Linked DNA regions of Homo sapiens: region 2 is linked to region 1. A link means that fine-mapping ties the variant in region 1 to the plasma level of a protein whose gene starts in the linked region. Region 1 holds a variant in brackets. A gene starts in the other region. All regions are shown on their forward strands.

Region 1 (12,768 bases):
CACACCTGGGTAAATTTTTAAATTTTTTTTTTAGCGATAGGGTCTCACTCATTGCCCAGGCTGGTCTTAAACTCCTGGGCTCAAGCGATCCTCCCGCCTCAGCCTCCCAAAATGCTTGGACTACAGGTATGCACCACCGCGCCCAGCCTCCTTTCTGGTTTTCTAATAAAGCCTTTTGTTCACCTCCTTCAAACACTTCCCCATGCTCTTCAGGTCTCAGCTCAAACAGGCCAGGCCCGGTCCCCTGGGTCCTCTCTGTCCTCCGTCTCCTGGTTCCCTGTACCTCTCCAAAAGCCCCCACGACCAAAAGAAGTAAAGATGTAGGGCCGGGCGCGGTGGCCTACACCTGTATTTCCCAGCACTCTGGGAGGCTGAGGTAAGTGGATCACCTGAGGTCACGAGAACCGATTGAACCCCAGAGGCAGAGGTTGCAGTGAGCCGAGATTGCGCCACTGTACTCCAGCCTGGGCGACACAGAGAGACTCAACCTCAAAAAAAAAAAAAAAAAATGGTGGCTGGGCAAGGTGGCTTATGCCTGTAATCCCAGCACTCTGAGAGGCCAAGGCAGGCAGATCACTTGAGCCCAGGAGTTCGAGACCAGCCTGGGCAACATGGTGAAAACCCGTCTCTACAAAAAATACAAAACTTAGCTGGGTGTGGTGGCATGCGCCTGTAATCCCAGCTACTCAGGAGGCTGAGGCATGAGAATCGCTTGAATCCGGGAGGTGGAGGCTGCAGTGAGCCAAGATCATGCGACTGCACTCCAGCCTGGGTGACAGTGCAAGACTCTGTCTCAAAAAAAAAAAAAAGTTCCCACTCTGGTCCAGCCACCATCACTGAAGGCCCGGACCATGCAGTCACCTCCTCATGGGACTCCCTGCCTGGGTCCTTGCTGCACCTCCACAAGGACCTGTCTTTCCCCCACATGCAGCCACAGGGATCCTGTTAACACCTAAGTCATCAGAAGGCTGAGGCGGGAGGATCGCTTGAGCCCAGGAGGTCGAGGCTATAGTAAGCCAAGATGGCACCACTGTACTCCAGCCTGGGCAACACAGTGAGACCCTGTCTCTAAACAGTAATAATAATAACAAATTAAATTAAATTAAAACCTGGCCTGGGCATGGTGGCTCATGCCTGTAATTCCAGCACTTTGGGAGGCCGAGGCAGATAGAGTACCTGAGGTCAGGAGTTGGCCAACATGGTACCTGACCAACGTGGTGAAACCCTGTCTCTATTTTAAAAATATAAAAATTAGCTGGGCCTGGTGGCACATGCCTGTAATTCCAGCTACTCAGGAGGCTGAGGCAGGAGAATCGCTTGAACCTGGGAGGCGGAGGTTGCAGTGAGCCCAGATGGCATCACTACACTCCAGCCTGGGCGACAGAGCGAGACTCCATCTCGAAAAAAAATAAAAAATGAAGTCAGATTATCCCTCCCCTGCCCAGAACCCTCCATGGCTCCCATCTCCCTCTGAGTAAAAGCCTATGTCCCTACAGTGGCTCATAAGATCCTGAGCCATCTCCTTGCCACCCTTCCCCTCTCCCCATCCTCCCACTCTCCCCCAGCTCATCCTGCTCCAGCTACACTGGCCTCCAACAGCTGTTCCGACCCACCTCTGGGCCTTGGCACTTGCTGTTCCCTCTGCCTAGAATACTCTTCCCCCAGATGTCCACATGGTTCATTCCCTCCCCTCACTCAAGTCTTAGCCCCAAACGTCATTCCTTGGAGGGCCTCCCTTGGCCACCAGATTTAAACAACAGCTTCCACTTCCTATGCTCCATCTCCCTCATTCCCTCACCAGTTTTATTTTTCTCCATAGCAAATACATACCATTGGCTGTATTTTCCTTGTCTTGTTGACTGTCTCCTGGATGGATGGACGAGTCTGTGGCTCCCCAAGGGCAGGAATCTTAGTTGTTCAACACCAGGGCAGGGCCTGGAAAACCTGTTAGCAGAGTGAATGAATTGTGTGTGTGTTTTGAAAAGGTAAGGTGTTCACAAGTTCCAAAATTCAAAAAGGACCAAATGGCAGTGAGCTGTCACTTCCCCACCACGACTCTGCCCCTCCCTCCCCAGTCCTGTTCTCACCTCCCAGTTTCCGTTTTTTTGTTTTGTTTTGTTTTGAGACAGGGTCTCACTCTGTCACCCAGGCTGGAGTACAGTGGTGCCAGCATAGCTCACTGCTGCTTCCACATCCTGGACTCAAATGATCCTCCCACCTCAGCCGCCCTAGTAGCTGGGGCCATAAGCACGCACCACCATGCCCAGCTAATTTTTGTATTTTTGGTAGAGACGGGGTTTTACCACGTTGCCCAGGCTGATCTCGAACTCCTGGGCTCAAGTGATCCATCCACCTTGCCCTTGCAAAGTGCTGGGATTACAGGCGGGGGCCGCTTTGCAAATGGTGCACAGTCTTGCTGTGGCCTGCATTTTCCCCTAGCAATACAGCAATACATCTGGAAAATCACACCGCATCAGCACCTTCTTTTTTTTTTTTTTTTTTTTAATAATTGCATGCACAGTGTCGACTTGTGGACAGACGAGAGCTCTTGCCGCAATTGTTATTATATTTCAGGAGTGGTGTGGCGTGGTGCCTAAGACCTCAGTGTCATCTCTCAGACCCGGATTCACCTCGTAGCTCTACAGCCAGAACTCCCACAGGCTGCTGGTGGGCGTGCAAGCCCCGAGCAGCCACTTTGGAAAATGGTTTGCCAACTTCCCGCAAGGTTAAATACACACTTCCCATAGGATCCAACAATTTTATTCCTCGGTATTGACCCGAGAGAAATGAAAACCTATTTTCACACAAAAAAACTGTATGCACACACACTCACAGCAGCTCTGTTCATAATTGCCAACAACTGTAAACAACCCAAATGTCCTTCAGCTTGTATGTGGATAAGCGAGCTGTGGTCCATCCACACAATGGAATATCACTCAGCAGTGAAGACTAACTGCTATTGATACACACAACGTGGATGGACCTCAACTGTGTTATATTGAGTGAAAGAAGCTATGCTCAAAAATTACAGTGTTCAGCCGAGTGCAGTGGCTCACGCCTGTAATCCCAGCACTTTGGGAGGCCAAGGTGAGAGAATTGCTTGAGCCCAGGAGTTTGAGACCAGCCTGGGCAACATGGTGAGACCCCATCTCTATAAAAATATTGATGATGATGGTGATGATGATGATGATGATAATGATAATAACTACATTACTCCATTTACAAGACACTCTGAAAAAGGCAAAACTAGAGGGACAGAAAACAGACCTGTGGTTGCCAGGGGTGGGGTGGGGGATGGGCGTGACCCCAAAAGGGCAGATGAAGGGTTTTAGGGGTGGTGGGACATATCCATATTTTGATTCTGGTGGTGACTACACAGCCACATGAGCCTGTCAAAGCTTTAAGAACTGCATGCCCCACAGGCACTTCGAGAGGCCAAAGCAAGAGGCCAGGAGTTGAAGACCAGCCTGGGCAACATAGTGAGACCCCATCTCTACCATAAATACAAAAATTAGCTGGGCTTGGTGGCGTGCACTTGTAGTTCCAGCTAATGAGGAAGCTGAGGCGGGACGATCGCTAGAGCCTGAAAGGTTGAGGCTGCAGTGAGTGGTGATCGCACCGCTGCACTCCAGCCTGGGTGACAGAGTGAGAACATTCCTCAAAAAAAAAAAGAAAGAAAGAAAGAAAGAAAAGAAATGTATGATGAAAAGAGTGAATTTTACTGTAGGTAAATTTGTCAATGATTTTTTTTTAAGGACTACATACTCTGTAATCCCATTTACATGTCATCCTGGAAAAGCAAATTTATAGGGATAAAAAGCAGCTGGGTGTGGCGGCTCACACCTGTAATCCCAGT[A/G]CTTTGGGAGGCTGAGGCAGGTGGATCACTTGAGGTCAGGAGTTTGAGACCAGCCTGGGCAACATGGTGAAACCCCACCTCTACTAAAAATACAAAAATTAGCCGGGCGTGGTGGCAGGCACCTGTAATACCAGCTACTCAGGAGGCCAAGGCAGGAGAATCGCTGGAACCCGGGAGGTGGAGGTTGCAGTAAGCCGAGATCGTGCCACTGCACTCCAGCCTGGGTGACAGAGCAAGACCCCATCTCAAAAAAAAAAAAAAAAGGCAGATATAGCTGAGTGTGGTGGCTCATGCCTGTAATCCCAGAACTTTGGGAGGCTGAGGTGGGTGGATCACTTGAGGTCAGGAATTCAAGACCAGCCTGGCCAACATGGTGAAACCTCGTCTCTACTAAAAATACAAAAATTAGCCGGACATGGTGGTGCCTGCCTGTAATCCCAGCTACTGGGGAGGCTGAGGCAGAAGAATCACTTGAACCCGGGAGGCAGAGGCTGCAGCAAGCAGAGATCGCGCCCCTGCACTCCAGCCTGGGTGACAGAGCAAAATGTCTCAAAAAAAAAAAAAAGAAAAAAGAAAAAGAAAAAGAAAAGAAAAGAGGCCGGGCGCGGTGGCTCACGCCTGTAATCCCAGCACTTTGGGAGGCCGAGGCGGGCAGATCACAAGGTCAATAGATCGAGACCATCCTGGCCAACATGGTGAAACCCCGTCTCTACTAAAAATTCAAAAATTAGCCAGGCATGGTGGCGGGCGCCTGTAGTCCCAGCTACTAGGGAGGCTGAGGCAGGAGAATCACTTGAACCAGGGAGGCAGAGGTTGCAGTGAGCCGAGACCGTGCCACTGCACTCCAGCCTGGCAATAGAGTGAGACTCCATCTCAAAAAAAAAAAAAGAAAAGAAAAAGCAGATTAGTGGCTGCCAGTGTCTGGGGACAAGGGGAGGAGATGACTGCAAGGAGGGCACAGTGGACCTTTTCCGGGCACTAGAAATGTTCTATATCTTGATCAGGATATGATTAAATGATTGTACATGTTTATCAGAACTCATCTAGCATACTCCTTCTTTAATTTAATTTTAATTAATTTAATTGATTTATTTTTGAGAGAGTCTCGCTCTGTCACCCAGGCAGGAGTTCGGTGGCAAGATCACAGCTCACTGCAATCTCCACCTCCTGGATTCAAGTGCCTCAGCCTCCCAAGTAGCTGGGATTATAGGCATGCGCCACCATGCCCCGCCAAACACACACATTTGAAACAGGTGTATTTTATTGCATGTAAATTATACCTCAGTACAGTTGATTTTTAAAATCTAAACTCCTGGCCAGGTGCAGTGGTTCAGGACTGTAATCCCAGCACTTTGGGAGGCTGAGGCAGGAGGATCACTGGAGCCCGGGAGTTCAAGACCAGTCTGGGCTTCCTGGCAAGACCCTGTCTCTACAAAAAAAAAAAAAAAAAAATGCAAAAACTAGCAGGGCATGGTGGCACATGCTTGTAGTCCCAGCTACTCAGGAGGCTGAGGGGGAAGGATCACCTGAGCCCCGGGAGGTGGAGGCTGCAGTGAGTCGTGAATGCACCACTGCACTCCAGCCTGGGTGACAGAGTGAGACCCCGTCTCAAAACACACACACACACACACACACACACACACATTTAGCTCCTCTTCCCCCTTATTGGCTGTGTGACCTTAGACAAAGCTCCTAACTTCTCTGTGCCTGGGTAAATGATGAGGGAGTTGGGAAGGAGGGAATGATCACTGAGGGCAGGTGCTGAGGTCTCAGGTCTCACTGTGGATTCATGCAAGAAACGTTTACAAGTGAAACAGAGGGGCTTTATGAGCTTTTAGAGGGGAACTGGAGACAGAGACCTGAGCAGCTGACAATGGCTCCTATGTCTCCGGAGGGCAGGTGGTGGGCTGAGCACTGTCAGGGCCTCACCTGCATCCCTTTGAACCATCGGGCACTCCTTTGCTGACCTGGAAAAGTGAGTGGAGCCATCCCTGGGATCCCAGAGAAATGGCATCGAGGGCACACAATTAAGAGCATTGTAAGCAAGCCTTGTGAACAGTCAGATGGGCTTGACAGCCCCGTGCCCAGAGGTCTCTGCTGTTTGGGGCAGTGCTGGATACACACAGCAGTGACAGCCCCAGGCCTGCCCTCACAGGCTCACACATGGGGAAGACTAGCCTGTCCCCAGACAGTCGCATCCCAGAATGTTGGGGCTGGCATGGTCAGGGGGGCCCAGAGGGGGCTCCTGACTCAGACTAGAAAGAGAAATCAGGGAGGGCTTCCTGGAGGAAAGGCTGTCAGAGCTGGGGCCTGATGTGTTTATTGAGCACTTACTGTGTGACCTGGTTTGGATCTCCAAGAAAGAGGTATAGTTTTGACGTTGAAGTGAAAGGGGTATGTATGGAAGGAGGATGGTGCGAGAGAGGCCTTGGCTAAGAGGCAGAAAGGGGTGTGGGTGGGACAGAGCCGGGGGATAAGGCTGAAGGAAGACGGTAGCTGGTGTGGGTCCTCTGCGGCAGGATCCTGGACTTTCTCCCGATGATGGGGCTCAGGAAGGAGCAGCTTCCTCAGGTTCCATCCTGTGCAAAGGGAGGACCAGGCAGGAGGAGGTGGGGAGGCTGAGGAAAGGCCATGGAAATGAGAAGTGGCTATAAGAGCCACCCAGGGGAGGGGACACAGGGAGGGTGAGAAGACCTGGGCGCCCGCTCCTTTCTCTTCTCTGTTCTCACTCTGAGCTAGACGGCATTGGCCGGGCAGCTTCCTTGTTTCTAAAAGTTTAAGATAAAGGGCAGGCAAGGTGGTGCCTGCCTGTAGTCCCAGTGCTTTGGGAGGCCCAGGCAGGTGGATCACTTGAGCCTCCTGTTTGGAGCTGTAGTGAGCTATGATCACATCACTGCACTCCAGCCTGGGTGACAGAGCAAGACCCCATATCTAAAAATAATAATAATAATTAATAATAAATATAAATTTAAGATAGTGAATCTGGCCGTGCGTAGTGACTCATGCCTGTAATCCCAGCACTTTGGGAGGCTAAGGTGGACGGATCACCTGAGGTCAGGAGTTCAAGAACAGCCTGGCCAACAGGACGAAACCCTGTCTCTATTAAAAAACACAAAAAAATTAGCTAGCGTGCACCTGTAGTCCCAGCTACTCGGGAGGCTGAGGCATGAGAATCGCTTGCACCTGGGGGACAGAGGTTGGCATAAGCCAAGACCGCACCACTACACTCCAGCCTGGGTGACAGAGTGAGACTCCATCTCAATAAAAATAAATAAATAAATAAATAAATAAATAAATAAATAGTGAATCTTAAGTTTGCCAAGGATGCATTTTTATCTCTCTTTAGTTCTTAAGACTCTGATCATTCTTCTTTTTTTTTCAAGTTCCAGGGTATATGTGCAGGATGTGCAGGTTTGTTACATAGTAAAAATGTGCCACGGTGGTTTGCTGCACCCATCAACCCATCGCCTAGGTATGAAGCCCGTCATGCATTAGCTATTCTTCCTAATGCTCTCCCTCCCTCTGCACCCCTCCCCATCCCAACAGGCCTCAGTTTGTGTTGTTCCCCTTCCTGTGTCCATGTGTTCTCATCATTCAGCTCCCACTTATAAGTGAGAACACGTGGTGTTTGGTTTTCTGTTCCTGCGTTAGTTTGCTGAGGATAAATGGCTTCCAGCTCCATCTGTATCCCTGCAAAGCACATGATCTTATTCCTTTTCATGGCTGCATAGTATTCCACGGTGTATACATACCACATTTTTCTTTATCCAAGACTTCGATCATTCTTAATTTTTATTTTTATTTTATTTATTTATTTATTTATTTTTGAGACAGAGTTTTGCTCTTGTTGCCAAGGCTGGAGTGCAATGGTGCAATCTCAGCCCAATGCAACTTCCTCCTCCTGGGTTCAAGTGATTCTCCTGCCTCAGCCTCCCGAGTAGCTGGGATGACAGCCATGCACCACCATGCCGAGCTAATTTTGTATTTTTAGTAGAGATGGAATTTCTCCATGTTGGTCAGGCTGGTCTTGAACTCCTGACCTCAGGTGATCCGCCCACCTTGGCCTCCCAAAGTGCTGGGATTATAGGTGTGAGCCACCGTGCCTGGCCTAATTTCTTAAATTCTACCCATTTTTGCTCCTAAAGTTCTGTAACTGCAGGTTTACTTGATCCTTTGATACTAAGATTCATTCATTCAGTAAATACTTACTGGGCCTCTATTCTGCCCTAGGTCCTAATGATACAAGGGAGAACAAAATGTATAAAATTTTTGCCATGACAGAAATCACATTTACTGAGCACTCACTGTGTGCCAAGTTTCATGCCAGGTGTACACATATAACATTACCTACATGATGAGTTACAGACTTCTATTATCCCCATTATCCAAATGGGGAAACTGAGGCATAGGGTTCTGGAATCCCTTGTTCCTAAAAATCTAGGATTCTAGAATTCCTCTCCTTCTCCTTCCTCTTCCTCTTCCTCCCTCCTCCTCCTCCTCTTCTCCTTCTCCTTCCCCTTCCCCTTCCCCTTCCCCTTCCCCTTCCCCTTCTCCTTCTCCTTCTTCTTTTTGAGACAGGGTCTCACTGTGTTGCCCAGGCTGGAGTGCAGCGGCATGATCATAGCTCACTACAGCCTCAATCTCCCAAGCTCAAGAAATTCTCCCACCTCGGTCTCTTAAGTAGCTGGGACCACAGGCAGGGTCTCACTTTGTTGTCCAGGCTGGTCCCAAATTCCTGGGCTCAAGTGATCCTCCTGTTTCAGCCTCCCAAAGTGCTAGGATTACAGGCATGAGCCACCGTGCCCAGCCTAGAATTCTTTGCACCTAAGATTGTAAGGGTCTATAATTCTTTGTCCTTAAGATTCTCTTATGCTTGGATTCAAGTGAACAATGTATATAGGAAAAGGTGCTGAATCTCATTATTGATCCAGGAAATGCAAATTAGAACCACCCTGAGATTCCAATCCACACATACACACAGCAGGATGACTCATATTTTTAAATCTGGTAGATCCAGTACTGATAAAGATGTGGGGCAAGGAGAACTCACAGCGGACATTGAAGATGGGAGTGAGAATTGGCATAACCACGTGGGAAAAGTGTCTGGCCATGTCTTCTACAGGGGACACCCTGCAGCCTAACAATTCTAGTCCTGGAGAATGCAGAAAAATGCACGCTCATGAGCATGAGCAGTATTGGCCAAAACAGTCAGAAAGTGGAAACCAACCTTCTGCCCACCAACAAATAATAGATTCAAAAATTGTGCTATACAGCCGAGCGCAGTGGCTCAAGCCTGTAATCCCAAAACTTTGGGAGGTTGAGGCAGGTGGATCACTTGAGGTCAGGAGTTCAGGACCAGCCTGGCCAACATGGTGAAACCCCATCTCTACTAAAAATACAAAAATTAGCTGGGCGTGGTGGCACATGCCTGTAATCCCAGCTACTCTGGAGGCTGAGGCAAGAGACTCGCTTGAACCCAGAAGGCAGAGATTGCAGTGAGCCAGGATCATGCCACTGCACTCTAGCCTAGGTGACAGAGCAAGACTCAGTCTCAAAAAAAATAAAATAAAATAAATTGTGCTATATCCATGCAAGAGAATAGTATACAGCAATGAAAAAATAAACACACTCCAATAGATTCAAGGATATGAATGAAAAGCCAGGCAAGGTGGCTCACACCTGTAATCCCAGCACTTTGGGAGGCTAAGGGGTATGGATCACCTGAGGACAGGAGTTTGAGACCAGCCTGGCCAACATGGTGAAACCCCATCTCTACTAAAAATACAAAATTAGCCAGGTGTGGTGGTGCACACTTGTAACCGTACTCAGGAGGCTGAGGCAGGAAAATCACTTGAACTCAGAAGGCAGAGGTTGCAGTGAGCCAAGATTGCGCCGTTGCATTCCAGCCCGGGCAAAAAGATCGAAACTTTAAACTTTAGCTCAAAAAAAAAAAAAAAAAGAAAAAACAGAAAAGAATATGAATGAAATTCACAGACATAAAATTGAGTCAAAGAAGCCAGATCCAAGAGGTTGTACAATAAGATTCCCTTTAGGACAGGCATGGTGGCTCACGCCCGTAATCCCAACACTTTGAGAGGCTGAGCCAGGCGGATCACCTGAGGTCAGGAGTTCGAGACCAGCCTGACCAACATGGTGAAACCCCGTCTCTGCTAAAAATACAAAATTAGCCGGGCGTGGTGGCGCATGCCTGTAGTCCCAGCTACTCAGGAGGTTGAGGCAGGAAAATCGCTTGAACCCAGGAGGCGGAGGTTGCAGTGAGCCGAGATCGCACCATTGCACCCCAGCCTGGGCGACAATAGGAAAACTCTGTCTCAAAAAAAAAAAAATTAGCTAAGCATGGTAGCAATGCACCTGGGGTCCCAGCTAGTCGGGAGGCTGAGGCCAGAAGATTGGCTGAGGCCAGGAGTTCAAGGCTCCAGAGAGCTATGGTCACACCCACTGCACTCCAGCCTGGATGACAAAGCGAGACCCCATCTAAAAAAAAAAAAAGATTTCCTTTATTAAAAATTCAAAATCGTAGTAGTCGTAGGTAGCAAAAATATAAAGAAAAGCAAGAAAATTATACCATAAAAGACAAAATACAGGTCACCTTTCCAGGAGGGAGGGAGCTGTGAGGCATGAAGAGGCATGAAGGAGCTTCTGAGGAACTAGCAACACTATTTCTCTTTTTTTCTCTTTTTTTTTTTTTGAGACAGAGTCTTACTCTGTCACCCAGGCTCGCGTGCATTGGCGCAATAGCAATATTGCTCACTGCAACCTCCGCCTCCTCGGTTCAGCTATTCTCCCAGCCTCCAGAGTGTCTGGGACCACAAGGCGTGCACCACCATGCCCCACTAATTTTTGTATTTTTAGTAGAGATGGGGTTTTGCCATGTTGCCCAGGCTGCTCTCGAACTCCTAACCTCAGGTGATCCGCCCCCTCGGCCTTCCAGTGCTAGGATTACAGGCATGAGCCACCGCGCCTGGCCCAGCAACACTTTCTTAACCTAACTGTTTCCTTTACAAAAGTCTCTGAAACAGAACAATATATTTTAATTGTACGCAATTCTCCCCATGTTATATTTCATAATTTTCAGGGATTTTTTTTTAATCCCACGATTCCAAATCTCTGTTCCTCAAATGACGTGGCTCTCCAGGGGGCGGTGGGCAAAAGTTCTGAGCCCTGGCATGGAGCCCTGGCACAGAGACCTGGTGCACGGTGCACCAGGAACCCACAGGAGAATTTGGGATCTGAAACAGCAAATACAATTTGATTTTCCCAGAAGTGAGCAAATGTGCTGTGACTCTGTGTGACCACAGTGGGCTGAAGTGACAAGTTCAAGGGTAGGTGATGTTCAGAGTAGAGGCCACAAGCCAGCGCCTCCCCGCCCCCACCCCACCTCCTGCAGAGCGTGACGCCAGTAAGAGTGGTCATCTATTTCTCTTCCCACCAGCCACCCCAGAGCCTGGCTCTCCCTGGGAGGAGATGCAACCTCAACAATCCTGGGCCAGTCCCATTCTTTTTGGATGTGGAAATTGAGCCTGCCCAGGATTGCTTGGCTGAGAGGCTGCCGTGTTGGGATTTGCTCCTGACTTGCAACCACCTGACTCCACAGGGATGAGGCAGTAGAGACAGCCCTGCCCCATCCTCAGTATCCTGGGAATGTGTTGGAGGGTATGGGTGGCCCCGACTGGGACACTGGGATGACGGTTGGAAACAAGGGAGGTGAGTGTGCCATGTCCCGGCTCAAATGAGGAAGGGCCCAGTGTGACCTCGGCTTTCCCAGGAGCCTGAGGGACTTTTGCATCTGTATTTTTAAATGCTGGTGGCCACAGGGCAGGTTGTGGCCTTGAGTAGGGGAGGCACCGACTTCCAGGGAAAAGGCTGGAGTTTCAGGAAAGGGACTGTCCCTCCTGGATAGGCACCATGCTCCACCCTGCCAGGGTGGGCTTGAGAAGAGGGGCTTCTAATTCAATGGGAGGGCTCCTACTTAGGGAGTGGCTAGGCTGATAGGGGTGGCATGATTTCCCCCAACTCAAGTCAAGAAGGAACCACTAATCTGATGGAGGAGGCACATACCAGCTCCCTCCTGGGGAAATTTATATTTCCTAGTCTAATTTGATGGACAAAACTTAATTTTACTCGGACAGCACTCCTAGTCCCAAGAAGGATTCAAGATTTACAGCGTAGTGAGCTCTAGTCTGATGGAGGAGGCAGGACCCAAACCCACCCACAGGGAGGTTTCCTATGAGGGTGGAGGCATGCCTGTTATCTTCAGGAAGCTCTAGTCTAGTCTGACATTCATCCAAATGTCTTCTGGGGAGGAGGGGCAAAATTGCTCCCCTCAATTGAGAATCTAGACAGAGGAGGGAGTCATGCTGCCCCACCCCATTTTTTTTTCCTTTTAGATCTAGTCCTGAACCCAGATGCCCCATGCATCTTCACGGAACCGATGGGAGAAGCAAAATCCACTTTTAGAGATATCTAATCTGTGAAGAAGTCACACTTTCATTCTCAGGGAGATTCTGATCTGATGGAGGAGGAAGAATGCAATTCAAACCCTCAAGGAACTCTTACACTGATGGGAAACATGTCCCCACCTTGGGGGCCTCCAAGTCTGATGGCAGAGGTCTTCCTCCCATCCTTGGGAAGCTCTAGTCCAATGAGGGAGGCACTCCCCCACCATGTCAGTGCCTTCCTTCCCGTACCTTCTCCCTGCCCTCTGGCTGCCCGAATGAGCAGGGCAGGGGGCTTCCCCTCCCCACCTCCCTGGTGAATCCTAGAATCAGGGAACTTCTGCAGGAGGACACCACGGTTCCCCAGCCCTGGGACTTCCCTTTCTCCGTCAGCCCAAACCCAGGGCCTCACTGGGGGGGCCAGACATGCCTGCCCTGCTGATCATGGCTCACCTA
Region 2 (12,768 bases), not on the chromosome of region 1:
CAACTACTTTATGGAAACTCCCCCTGGAGAGCTCACCTCAAGCGCTCCAGGTCCCAAGCCAGCCTTCTTCTAGAATCTTCTCCCCATCCCTCCCATTCTTCAGAGGGAGTCTCAAAAAGATTTTCTTGGATATTGCTGCATGAAATGGTGAGCATTGTACACAGCACATTATGCAAACCAACACATCAGAGGATGGCTGGTGTCATATCTGCTTGAAAGCTTTCAGCCCCAAACACTTTGGCATTCCTGCCATTTCTGCCAAAAACAACTTCGGAGAGAGGCTGGGGAAGGAGGCTAGGTGAGATCTGTTGGATTCCAGAGATTCAAGTCAGCACTGGTGTGACTGTGAGTTACCACACAGAGCTGGGGTGCCCGAAGGAAGAGACCCTCTTTCTGCCGAGATGTGGTTTTATAAGGAAAGAGAGACATTCCCACTTCTGAGTGGCTTTAGGGGGTACAGACATGCCAATCTTCAGCACATCTTACCTACCGAAAAATTTCCATCTTTTGCTGTCAAAACAAGTCATATCTTAAAGACCACACACACAGAGAAAGTTGGCTTCTCTACTTCATATCCAGAAAGTTCTCAGGGAGAAAATATGTAGCACTAAGGTGAATAGAAGTCAATGTAGCCGGGCACGGTGGCTCATGCCTGTAATCCCAGCACTCTGGGAGGCCAATACGGGTGGATCACCTGAGGTCAAGAGTTAAAGACCAGCCTGGCCAACATGTTGAAACCCTGTCTCTACTAAAAATACAAAAATTAGCTGCGCGTGGTGGCAGGTGCCTGTAATCCCAGCTATTCGGGAGGCTGAGAGAGGAGAATCGATTGAACCTGGGAGGCAGAGGTTGCAGTGAGCTGAGATCATGCCACTGCACTCCAGCCTGGGTGACGAGAGCGAAACTCCGTCTCAAAAAAAAAAGAGGAAAAGAAAAAGAAAAAAGGTAAAAAAAGAAAGTCAATGTAAATCTGTGGAGCCTCTATTTACATATTTCTTTTTACTGTGTTCTTAAAACATCCCCTCAGCATATGACTATGATCGGAGGCTGAGTGCAATGGAAGTGTTCACTTCTAGAACTTTCTCTCTGTAAGGACAGGAAGAAGATATATATGTGGAATGGACTGATGGATATTGTTCATTGTCAAGTTTGGCCTACATCCAGAGACCATAAATGTCACTCTTCTATCACTGAGTGAAGAAAATCATGCACTTCAGAGGCAGAAAGGGCTTGGGACCTCCAGGCCAGGGATTCCCATTATAGGCTCTGCCATTTAATAACTTCATAACCCTGGGAAGGTTCCTCGGCTTCTCTCAGCCTCACTTTCCTCATCTAGAAAATGAAGGTGAGACTCCTACCAGATGGAGTTGTGGGGGATTCACGAGACAATGGAGCAAAACCACTGGCACACAGTGGGTGATCCATAATGGTGGCTCCTGGCCACTTGTACTACAGACACAAATAAACAAAACCAAAAACCTTCCACAGTTAGAGAGTTTTCACTGGGAATTTTGACTTCCCTCTACAATTCAGTCTCCTGCTGTGGACTTTAAGTGGTCAGTGGTGTTGAACAACTATTATCTAACTATTGGCATAGTATTAAGAGATTCAGAGATATTGACCAATGTCAGTGTTTCAGGACCCTTAATAATGGGTGGGTTTCATGATTCCATTGTCAAGATGAGCTCATTTCTGCTCAGAAGATTAAATAATTGGCCCTGAGACTGGTTATCTATCAGCAGAAGCAAACTTTGTGCTGAGATCCAGGTCACTCTTCCATGGTAGAGGCAAAACTCCTTCCAGTTCTGCCAGTGACCAGAGGCCAGGAGTGAACTCAAACCAGCAACTGCGGGCCTGGAGGAGTTTAAGGAGGTTTTGGGTCTGTTCTCCAATGTTCTTGCCAACCCATAACAAACCTGATGACTGTTGAGTGACTCCTGGAGGAGATTATTATTCTTTTTCTATCTCAGGGCTATGTTACATATGTGGAGGAGGGGGCCACAGGGCTGAGAACCTGTGTAGACCTTAAGGGAAAATATCCTTTCTTTGCTGTGGCTTGAAGGAGCTTGGGGAGGGTCTGGAATGTTGCTTCAGTGCTCTTGGAGTTGGTGGTAAGGTTCACAGGTCAGGCCCCAGGCCCCATCCTACAATGACCCCACCCTCTTGGACATTTCTCTAACATGCCAAGCATGATCCCTGTCATGGGAATGGAAGTGCCATGAAGACAGGGATTTCTTTTTTCTCTTTCCTTCATTGCTATTTCTCACCTATGGTAGAGTTCCTGGCAAAAAGAAGGGACAAATAGGATTGAATAAATAGATTAACCATGATTTCAGGGCATATGTTCTGACTGGTCCCTCTGTTTGGAACATGCTTACCCAGGAGAGTTCCCTGGCTAAAAAGAGATTCCTCTTTTTAGGTCTAAGCTCAAAAGTAACCACCACAGAGAGGCTTTTCCTCTCCACCCCATCTAAAGCTCATTACCCTCGATCACTTTATCCCCTTCCCTTGCTTTAATAGTCTTCTCTATCGTGTATCATGTATCATGAGCTCATCATCACTTTTCCCACTGTTCCATGAGGGCAGAACACTCGTCTCTTGTACATCCATTGCTGTATCTCTGGCACCTGGAACACAACCTGGAGTGAGTCAGTGCTCTGTAAGTTATGTGTTGAGTGAGTGAGTGAATGAATAAATCCACTATCCATGGGAAAACTTGGAACAGTGCTTGCTCATAGCAGGTAAGAGATAAGTGCTCTTTTTATTGATGATCATGATGACATCCAAATGTCACTCTGAGGCTGTGGCACTGTGGATTGGCCTCTGACGTCCTCAGTGTGCATCCCAGTAGGTTGGTGAATGTAAAAGGCTTTCCTTCCCCCCCACCTGCCATTCCTCCCTGCCACCATCAGACATGCTAAAGAACAGTGCTTTCGTCAGCTTCTGCTCCTCCTTTCCCTGGTTGTGGAATTGTGACAAGGCATTGGAGACAGTTCATCCTCTCTCCCCCACTCTTAAAATACAACTTTCAGATCCTTCATACTAACATATAAATGAATAATGGCAGTCTCATCGCTGCATCCCATCCGATCCCAGACACCTGACCTCTCCCAGAATCTGAAACTTCCCATCTATTCACTTTCATTCATGTTATCAAATGCCTAAAGTGCCTCCACTTTGCCCCATTTTATTCCCACAGATACTCTTTCCAAAATCCAGCTCCACTATTCCCTCCCCTGTTACACTCAAGCCCAGATCTTACAGCAGTTTCTGCCTTCTCTCTCTGGTTTTCCTTGTAGCCCTCTCCCCCTTCCTTTATAGCCCTTATCTTGGGCCACTGTACTTAACTAGGCCTTTCTTCTCCAAGAATGAAGAATGAAGGAATGAAACTCATTTCTTCTCCAGAATTGAGCTTTGCAAGGCCGGGGTCTTTCGGGTGGGGGAGGGAATGGGCAGCTCTGACATGAATCAGTAGCGGAGGTTCCTCAACCCTGTAGACTCAGCTGTCAGAGCTCCTGGGTTCCAATCCTACCGGCCCTCTTACCATCTATGAGTCCCTGACAAATGATTTAATCACATTATATACCAGGTGTCCCACCTGAAAACAGGGATCCTAGTTATTATACTTCAATAAACACCAAACACCACTGACCAATGGATACAATTATAAAGAAGGATTCCAGAAAGAGATAACTTGCGAAGGGTGGGGAACTGGAAGTTCCTGTTTAGATTGTTTTTCCATTGATATATGGGGACTACTTAATGAGTTTATTTGGGACCAGACACAGAGAAAACCAAGCAATGTTTGAATGTATTTCTGAAAAACACCCAGAGTTTTATTACCATTAATTCAGCAGAAAGTTCGTTGCACTGAAATTATCACTCTGGCTCATTCAGCTCAAAGACTCTTCGCTGCTCAAACACATAGCTGTGTGGGCCATGGAAATACATGCTGCAGGAAACAGCCTCTGAACATCGCATCCAAGAAAAATAAGGCAAATTCCAAAACACAAAAGCAAAAAATACAAAACTTGTTTAAATATTTCGTTGCACTCACTAAGCACAAAAGTTCATATTTTGGGGGGACTGTAGAGAGCTTTAAAGTATACAGAGGGACTTACGACATGACATCTCTTAAGGGAACCCGTTCTCTTTTGACCTCATTAGCATGACGTGTCCTGCACTATGCTGAGGAAGAATGTGCAGAGAGAGCTCCAAGTCTCTCCACAGAACTCCAGGGCAGTCTTCCTCTGGTTTGCCATATCTGGGTCCTCCACACACTCGGGAGCTTTGGTGGCCATGGTCTGGGTCACTGCTAGGCTAGAGGGGGTGGTCTCTTTGCCTTTGATGTGCTCCCTGGGGGACATCTCTGTTTTCTCCTTCCTGGGCTTTGTGTTCCCAAATAGAGTGGAGCTGACTAGCTTAAGACTGGATTCTGGAAAATCCTTTCTGCACACTCTGGTTTTCACAGCTGTCTTGGAATATCTACAGATGTCTTTCTGTGAGCGCAGATTCCGGGCAACTTGTTTCCAATAGACTCTCTCATCCTTGAGCTTTAGGCATGAGGTTGGATTGCCAGCAAAGACACAGGAAAATTCATGGTCCAATTGAGTGCACTCAACCTTGAGAGAGATGCCCTCCTCCTGCTCAGTAGCAGCCCATCTGCAGTTGGCTTGGTCTTTGGTGACAAACTTGCCTTTGTTCCCGGGCCTGCTTTTCTGCTTAATCTGGGTGTTGCCCAGAGTGTCCTTTTGTTCTGAGACCACTTTGCTGTGAAGTCCATTCTTCACTTTTTTTTTCCCCTCCACCAGGAGCACCTGAGCAGCCAGTAGGAGGAAGGAGAGCAGGGTGAGGCTACAGATCTTCATGGCTGCAGCTGGGCGTTCACCTGTTTGACAAAAGGCAAGTGAGTCAGTGGCAGGCAGCAGTTCAGCTGTGCAGGACTACACGCTGGCCTCCCCCTACCCTGACAGGTGCCTACATGATTTCAGAGTAGACCAAGAACGCTTCTGGCTCCTGGAGTCACTAGACAAACAGCCTGTCTACTCACATTTCCACTTGACTTGAGTCTTGAGTGTCACAAAAGTACCACTCTTTGGAGCCTCACGAACTCTCATTTATCATTTATTCACTCATTAACTCCTGCATCTGCTCACTCCTCACTCTTTCATTCACTCATTCAACAAGCATTTACTGAGCACCTACTATATGCCCCCCACCAGACTAGGTGTTGAAGAAATCACCATGATTGAGAAAGCCTCAGATTTGAAAGAGCTTAGAGACCACTCTTTGGGAGAATTTAAATAGCATTGATCAGGGAATCTATCCCGTCATCTCTGTTTCTGATATGAAACAAGTTACTGCTCCAAACTTTCAGCTCCAAAGGGCTGGATTTCTATCTCATGACTCCATATGGACACAGATGCCCAAAATGAGAAAAGACATGACAGATGCCCAAAATGAGAAAGGATGTGGTAAGCATCATGAAAGGTGATGTTGACCCAGAGTTGAACATGCCTGGGGTTTGGGTGGGGTGGGTGGGGTTGTGGGGGTGGGGGAGCTTTTTGTGGGGAAGTAAGAGTTTAAGGAAAGGTGTGAGGTGGGGTGGTTGTCTGATTTGCCTGGGCAAAGTGAATCAGGGTGGAGAGAGGTGAATTTCAACCAGATAGTTCACACTACAAGATCGAAGACAAGGATCATGAGAAATCATTGAATCAATAGGATGAACACCAACGTCACACTGAACTGCATGAATCTGATCATGTGTACAATAAAAACCCATGCTTAACAGAAGAAGAGAAGTCAGTTTCTATATGACACCTCCTGTGTGCTAAGTACTGGTCTAGGGTTTGATTCCCACCTTGTGAAATCCACACAAGAGCTCTTCCAGGTAGCTATTAATATGTCATCCCAGGTGACAGCTCTGACTCTTAAGGCTCAGACAGGTAAGTAAATTGCTCAGGATCTCATAGTGGGCAAGTTCAAAGCTGGTATGGGTAGCCAGATCAATCTCCTTATTCCTTTCTGTCACCCCTGGTTGATCACTTTTTGCTTTTCACATTTACTCTGCCCTTTAAAAACATTGCCAAAGAATAAGAAAAACAACTATGAACAATGACAATTTAGTTTCATATAACACATAATGATAAGATGATTTGTATTATTTGTGCTCCATTTAAAACAAAACACAGAATTTTTTATAAAAAGAGGCAGACCCAGGAAATGGTCCTGATCTGATTTCTACCCTAGAAGTTGGCCATCTTCTAGGGTTAAGAAGGAGAAAGACAATCACAAAAGGGCAGAGAACAGCAATAAATGGTGAAGAGGAGACTGGATATGCCAGAAAAACACCCAGTCATTTCTCACGGCCCTGGGGCTCAGCCCCCACCTGCCCATGATGGAATGCAGGCCCAAGGAACTCCAGGCCCTTGGTGGAGTGAGAAGTGGCAGCAGGTAATAAAGCTGTTAAAGGAGCGAGGCTCTTACCTTGTTCTGAGCACACGGATCCAGTGCAATCCCAGGCAGTGCGAGTGAATTGCAGGCTGCAGCTGTGTCAGGTAGAGTGCAAGGGGGGTAGACTATTCAACAGGAGCCAGGCTGACTGGGTTTTTATAACACTCACTGGGTTTTTACAACACTGTGGCACGTTACTCACAGCTCCTCCCAGCCACGCCCCTCCGAGGGAGCCGGTTCCTGCAGGGAAAGTGCTGGATGTAATCCAGTGAAAAGGGGGGTTACCTGCATGCCATCAAACGCTTCCTCTAGGCCCTTCCCTGTCCACCCTGTGGCCAGGATAGGAGGACAACTCAGCCTCACAGTGACCCTCCTTGATGGGGAGAGGACCCCAGCAGTGATGTCTATGGAGGAGTAAAATAACTATAATGACATGATCCGAGCTGCCAAACTACTGAGCCCATTTTACCTGAGTTCTCCTTTTCCCTCATCACATCCGCTCTAGTAGGGAGTGCAATGATTCCTCCCCTTTTACAAAAGCAGGAATTGGTTCTGGAGATATGTAAGAGCTTGTCCAAGTTCACAGAGGCAGGAAAAGGAACATCTCAAAATTAAAAGTGAGATTCTCTACATCCATGGTCTGATCTCTTCCTGCCTGCCACTCTCAATAAATCTTTGTTGAATGGGTGACTGAAGTTGCCGAAGTTTTCGTAGTGTCTGAGTTCCTTTTTCCATCTGAAGTTACTACATAAGCAGAGGATACCCTAATTCTAGAGGCAGGGAAATTTACATTAAAAATTCCCTCTTTTTTATCAGGGAATTCTACCAGGCTCTGAGAGGCTGGTAAAGAGGGAATTTTTAATATAAGATTACTGTTGTAAATACTTACCTTCAGGTCTCATTCAGAGAGCTCAGGCTGCCCTGCCTGCTACAGGCACAGTCCCACACCAGAATGACCCAGGTGGAATCCTGGCCACAGCATGTGTTTAGCTGAGTGCTATGCCCAAACCACTTAGCCTCTCCCATCATCCATTTGCAGTGTGCTGACAATAACAACGTCTCCTTTATAGCTGCATACTAAATTTTTACTGGGCTAAGCTGTTAACATAAAGTGGAGCAGAATCGTTTTGCCTCATGACAGGGTCTTAAGTTGTATACTTTGAAAACAGACATTTGTTATTTACATATGCAGCATTTAAAAAGAAACTCACTTCTACAGGGAAGATGTGGCCCTCATTATATATTATCACCTCACCTTTCATAGATTTTCAGAAGAAGAAATTGTTCACTTTTCCTTAATTCAGCCATAAGAAAACTATTGTTTAGTGTGATATTAAATGGCAACTGACTTTTGGGTTTGAGATAAGGCAATAGGGAGTGATGGGGACTGTGGCAAACTAGAGAGTCTCTGCCTCCATAGAGGTCAACACTCATCTCCAATTGACTGAGAAAATGCAGGGATTAGGCTCAGTATTGTCACACTGTCTGATTTTTAAAATGACATCCCCAAATCCAGATGTGTTTATATGAAATTGGTTGGCAGCTAATTAAAATTTTCTAAAAATAAAGCTGTAGCTCAACACTATGCAGGCCAAAACTTGTAACTGTGTTTGGATTTTATGAACGATCCACCTGTTTGAGAATTCCGTGGTCATAGCTATAGATGTTGACCAATTTACTCAGAGGCTCAGTCTCTGCATGAATCTGTTGGAAGAAGCCATTTCTGAAGCTGTGTGCCTCTCTCCTAAAATTGCCTCACCCAGGGGTCCGTCCTCACTATCCTCACAAACACCCCGCTGAGGCCCTGACCTCCACGAACAGGCTCTCTCATGCGGTATTTTGGAGGATTATTTGGACATAGGCAAGGCAAAGCTGCTTTGCTCAACAAGGGGAGTCTCCTACAAAATGGAAAATTCTACTTGATCCTTGGGAGGCAGGCAGATTCTTTCTGGAGGCAGATTGCAGTTGGAACACAAAACATATTTACAAGGAAACATGTGGACTCCGGGGTCTTTCTGGGAAGTGCTTCTCTGAGCTTTGCCAGGTAACACTGCACATTCCCCACTGGCTCCTTGTGGCCCTTCCCCTTCCTGTGACTCCCATCCCAGCGTCTGCTTTGCTCTTTCCCTTCTAGACTCAGCAGCACAGCATCAGAGCAGGCTGTGGGGCAGTCACCTCCTTGGCTCATCCTGCCCTTCCAACCTCATTTCCAGGTACTCACACGCAGACACATAAATACACATACACACTGACACACATACAAAGACACACACAAACACACACTGACACACTCAAACACACACAAACACACTCAAAGACACCACACTCATAGACACACAGAGACACACACATACTGACACCTAGACACATTCACACACATACTCATAGGCACACACACACAGAATCACACACAGTGACACTGACACACACACAGAGACAGACACACACACACATGCACACACACACTGCAATCTGGCCACACTGAAACCCTGTCCCACCATTTGCAGATACTCCATGCATGCGCCCACTTCCTGCCTTTGCCTCTGCTGTTCCCTGCACTTGGGATCCCCTTCCCTTCCTTCTCTGCCTGGCACACACCGCCTCATCCTTCAAGGCCAGGCTCCAATGCGAGCCCCTCTCTGTTGGTGTCATTGGCTCCTGACGCCCTGCATGCCACCCACATCTTTAAGAATGTCCACGGGGAGAAATGGCACACTTCCTCCAATGAGCTTACAGCGTGCCAGGCACTGTGCTAAGGCTGTTTCCCAAGCTTTCTTCGTATCTCCATGAACTAAGGAAACGATGTCCTTTTCCAGTGGCTCTGGGGAGACTGCAGAGGACATGGAGCCCCAGCCACGCAGTGCATAGCAGGTTCCAGTAACTTCAGGCCCCTCCACCTCCCCATGCTCCCAGCACTGAGGGGCTCTGTAATTCTTGGGGATGAGTACATAAAGGCCCATTGCACAAGAACCCCAGGAGGAAAGTCGGCCCAGGTCCTCATGGGACAGATGTGGAGGCAAGGCTTAGGGGGACTAAGCACAGTGTCTGACACACAATTAGAGAAGAATTATCTGGAGGCCGCTGCTATCATTCTAAACACAAATGAGGCAGTGTACGCATACACTGATAAATTGTGGAATTCTCCTCTCTTTGCCCCTTCATACCTTCCCTTTAAATTTTTTTTTAAAGTTTTAGAATAATTTTAGGTTTACAGAGAATTGCAAAGATAGTTATCATTCCAATTCTCACCTGGGTTCCCTATTTACCTGTTACATTACTATGGTACGTTTGTCACAACTGACAAACATTGATACATTATTGTCAATTGAAGTCCATACTTTATTCAGACTTGCTTAGGATTTACCTGTTGTTCTAGTTTTTATTATTATTATTATTATTATTGACAGACTTTATTTTTTAGAGTAGTTTTATGCTCATAGCACAATTGAGTGGAAAGTATCAAAAGTCCCATATACCCCTCCCCACACGCAGGCACAGTCTCCCCTACCTTCAACATCATGAACCAGGGTAGTACATTTGCTGTAAGTAATAAACCTACATTAACATGTCATTATCACCCAATGTCCATCATTTCCATTAGGTTCACTCTAAGTGCTGTACATTCTTTGGGTTTTGAGAAATGTATAATGACATGCATAATATCAATTAACTAAGAAAGGTATAATGACGGTACCCACCACTATGGTATCATACAGAATAGTTTAGCTGCCCTAAAAATTCTCTGTGTTCTGCCTACTTACCACTCCATCCCCTACAACCCCAGGCAATGCTCATCCTTTTGCTGTCTCCTCAGTTTTATCTTTTTAAGAATTTCAAATAGTTGGAATCACACAATATGTAACCTTTTATATTGACTTTTTTACCTAGTAATATGCACTTAAGGTTTCTCTATGTTTTTCATAACTTGATAGCACATTTCTCTTAAGTGCTGATAAAATTCCAAAGATTGGATATATCCAAGTCCCTTTATTCATTCACCTACTACTAAAATTCCATTGATTGGATGTACCCGAGTTCATTTGTTCATTCATCTAGGACATTTTGGATGCCTCTAAATTTTGACAGTGATGAATAGAGCTGCTATAAACATGCATGTGCAGGTTTGGTGTAGAATTAAATTTTCAGCTCCTAATGTTCTTTTTCTGTCCAGGATCCCAACATGACACCAGGTTGCATTTAGTGATCGTGACTTTTTGGGTTCTTCTTGGCTATGGCTGTTTCTCAGATGTTGCTTGTTTTTGATGACTATGGCAGTTTGCAGAAGAATTGGTTAGGTGTTTTGAGAATGTCCTTAATTTGGAAATTGTCTGGCATGTTCTGGTTAGATTGGGATCATGTTATTCTTCTCATGATCACACAAAACTTAAATGATGAATACTTTCTTTGGGATTGTGAAAGGAAGTCTGAACACAATTGGTAAAAACACACTGGCTAAGGCTGGTAATTGAATGCATGTCTGGTCACCAGCTGGGGATTTGAAGTTCAAAAGCTGATTTTACTCTCATGCCTGTTACTACCACATAGCTTCTTGACCTAGAGGCCTGGCCCTACTTATGCAGTCACCAGAGATTATTCATATAATGGGTGCAATTTGGTTCTGAGGTAAGTCTTAACTGTGCCAAACTTATTGCCAGGCCAAAGTTGTCAAAAATCAACCCTTCCTTCAAACGTTACTTTACAAACAGACATTGCAAATGCTGAGCTGCTGCACTAAAGCAATATTAATTTGTTGGGCAAATAATGTGCATTAAAATACATTTATTATCAGAAAATAAGGAAATTGGGCTAAGCAAACATCAGTAAAATCTAATTCATCTGGCAAAAAGCATTAATCTTAGACCTACTCAAGAATATTTGCATTCTGGGAGGCCAGGGCAGGCGGATCATGAGGTCAGGAGATCGAGACCATCCTGGCTAACATGGTGAAACCCTGTCTCTACTAAAAACACACACACACACACAAAAATTAGCTAGGCATGGTGGCGGGTGCCTGTAGTCCCAGCTGCTCAGGAGGCCGAGGCAGGAGAATGGCGTGAACCCAGGAGGCGGAGCTTGCAGTGAGCCGAGATGTGCCACTGCACTCCAGCCTGGGCGACAAAGTGAGACAAAAAAAAAAAGAATATTTGCATTCCAAATTTAAAGTGCTCATTCATCATGAGATTTCAGGATTCCTGTTCAGGACAATGAAAGTTTTATTTCTTTAGAAAATGAAGAGATAGCAGAGTGTGGATTCTATAGTATTGGGTATGATTGCAAGGTGAAAACCTATTAAGTTTATTTACTTTAGAAAGAATGTTGTTATTAACCACATAATATTAACACATTTCTTAACTTTTATTTTAGGTTCAGAGGGTACATGTGTAGATTTGTTACATGGGTAAATTGCATGTCGCTGAGGTTTGCTGTACAAATGATCTTATCACTCAGGTAGTGAGCATAGTACCCAGTAGGTAGTTTTTCTAACCTTGCCCCCCTCCATTTCTCCCCACTCTAGTAGTCTCCAGCCCTATTTTTGCCATCTTTATGTCCATGCTTACCTAATATTTAGCTCCTTCTCTTTTTTTTTTCTTTCCGAGACAAAGTCTTGCTCTGTCACCCAGGCTAGAGTGCAGTGGCACGATCTTGGCTCACTGCAACCTCCACCTTCTGGCTTCAAGCAGTTCTCCTGCCTCAGCCTTCCGAGCAGCTGGGATTACAGGCACCTGCCACCATGCCTGGCTAATTTTTTTATTTTTAGTAGACACGGGGTTTCACCATGGTGGCCAGGCTGCTCTCGAACTCCGGACCTCATGATCCGCCTGCCTCGGCCTCCCAAAGTGTTGGGATTATAGTCGTGAGCCACTGTGCTCGGTCTAGCTCCTTCTCTTATAAGTGAGAACATGCAGTATTTGGTTTTCTATTCCTGTATTAATTTGTTTAGGATAATAGCCTCCAGCTGCATCCATGTTACTGCAAAGGACACAATTCATTATTTTTCGTGGCTGCATAGATAGTATCCCATAATGTATATGTACCACATTTTCTTTTGTCAATTCACCTTTGATGGGCATCCAGGTTGATTCCATGTTTTTGCTGTTGTGAATATTACCACAATGAACATATGAGTGCATATTGTTTTTTTAAATTTTTATTTATTTACTTTTTTGTAGAATGATTTTCATTTGGGTATATACCCAGCAGTGGAATCATATCAACATGTTTTTAGAAACAATGTTTAATGGTTGGTTCTGATTCTCAACACATTTGAAACCTAACTCCAATTTTTGTGTTAGGTTAAATCATACGAAACTACTA

Which allele goes with the higher level. Positions count from the first base shown, and alleles are read on the strand shown. Strength reflects both the effect of a copy and how common the allele is.
For the plasma level of the protein whose gene starts at base 6,976 in region 2, allele G in region 1 goes with a lower level than allele A (strong association).

What was found. PIP is the chance, under the fine-mapping model, that this variant and not a neighbour inherited with it causes the effect. Protein levels are from antibody-based Olink assays in UK Biobank. Linkage for the fine-mapping came from a reference panel and not from the study's own genotypes, which makes the PIPs less certain.
Region 2: it holds the start of FGFBP1, and the variant in region 1 is fine-mapped to the plasma level of the FGFBP1 protein (UK Biobank, PIP above 0.99).

What each region holds. Positions count from the first base shown.
Region 1 is chr19:44,726,262-44,739,029 of GRCh38, forward strand. No RefSeq gene overlaps it. Among named protein-coding and RNA genes, the nearest start is that of CEACAM16-AS1, 7.5 kb to the left of the region's middle. RefSeq lists an enhancer at 10,867-11,368. The variant A/G (reference allele first, on the strand shown) is at 3,857.
Region 2 is chr4:15,931,765-15,944,532 of GRCh38, forward strand. It overlaps FGFBP1 (fibroblast growth factor binding protein 1), which reads right to left and starts at 6,976. Exons shown (of 3, transcript NM_005130.5): 1 at 6,923-6,976; 2 at 6,487-6,707; 3 at 3,813-4,888. The coding sequence starts at 4,868. The coding sequence ends at 4,164.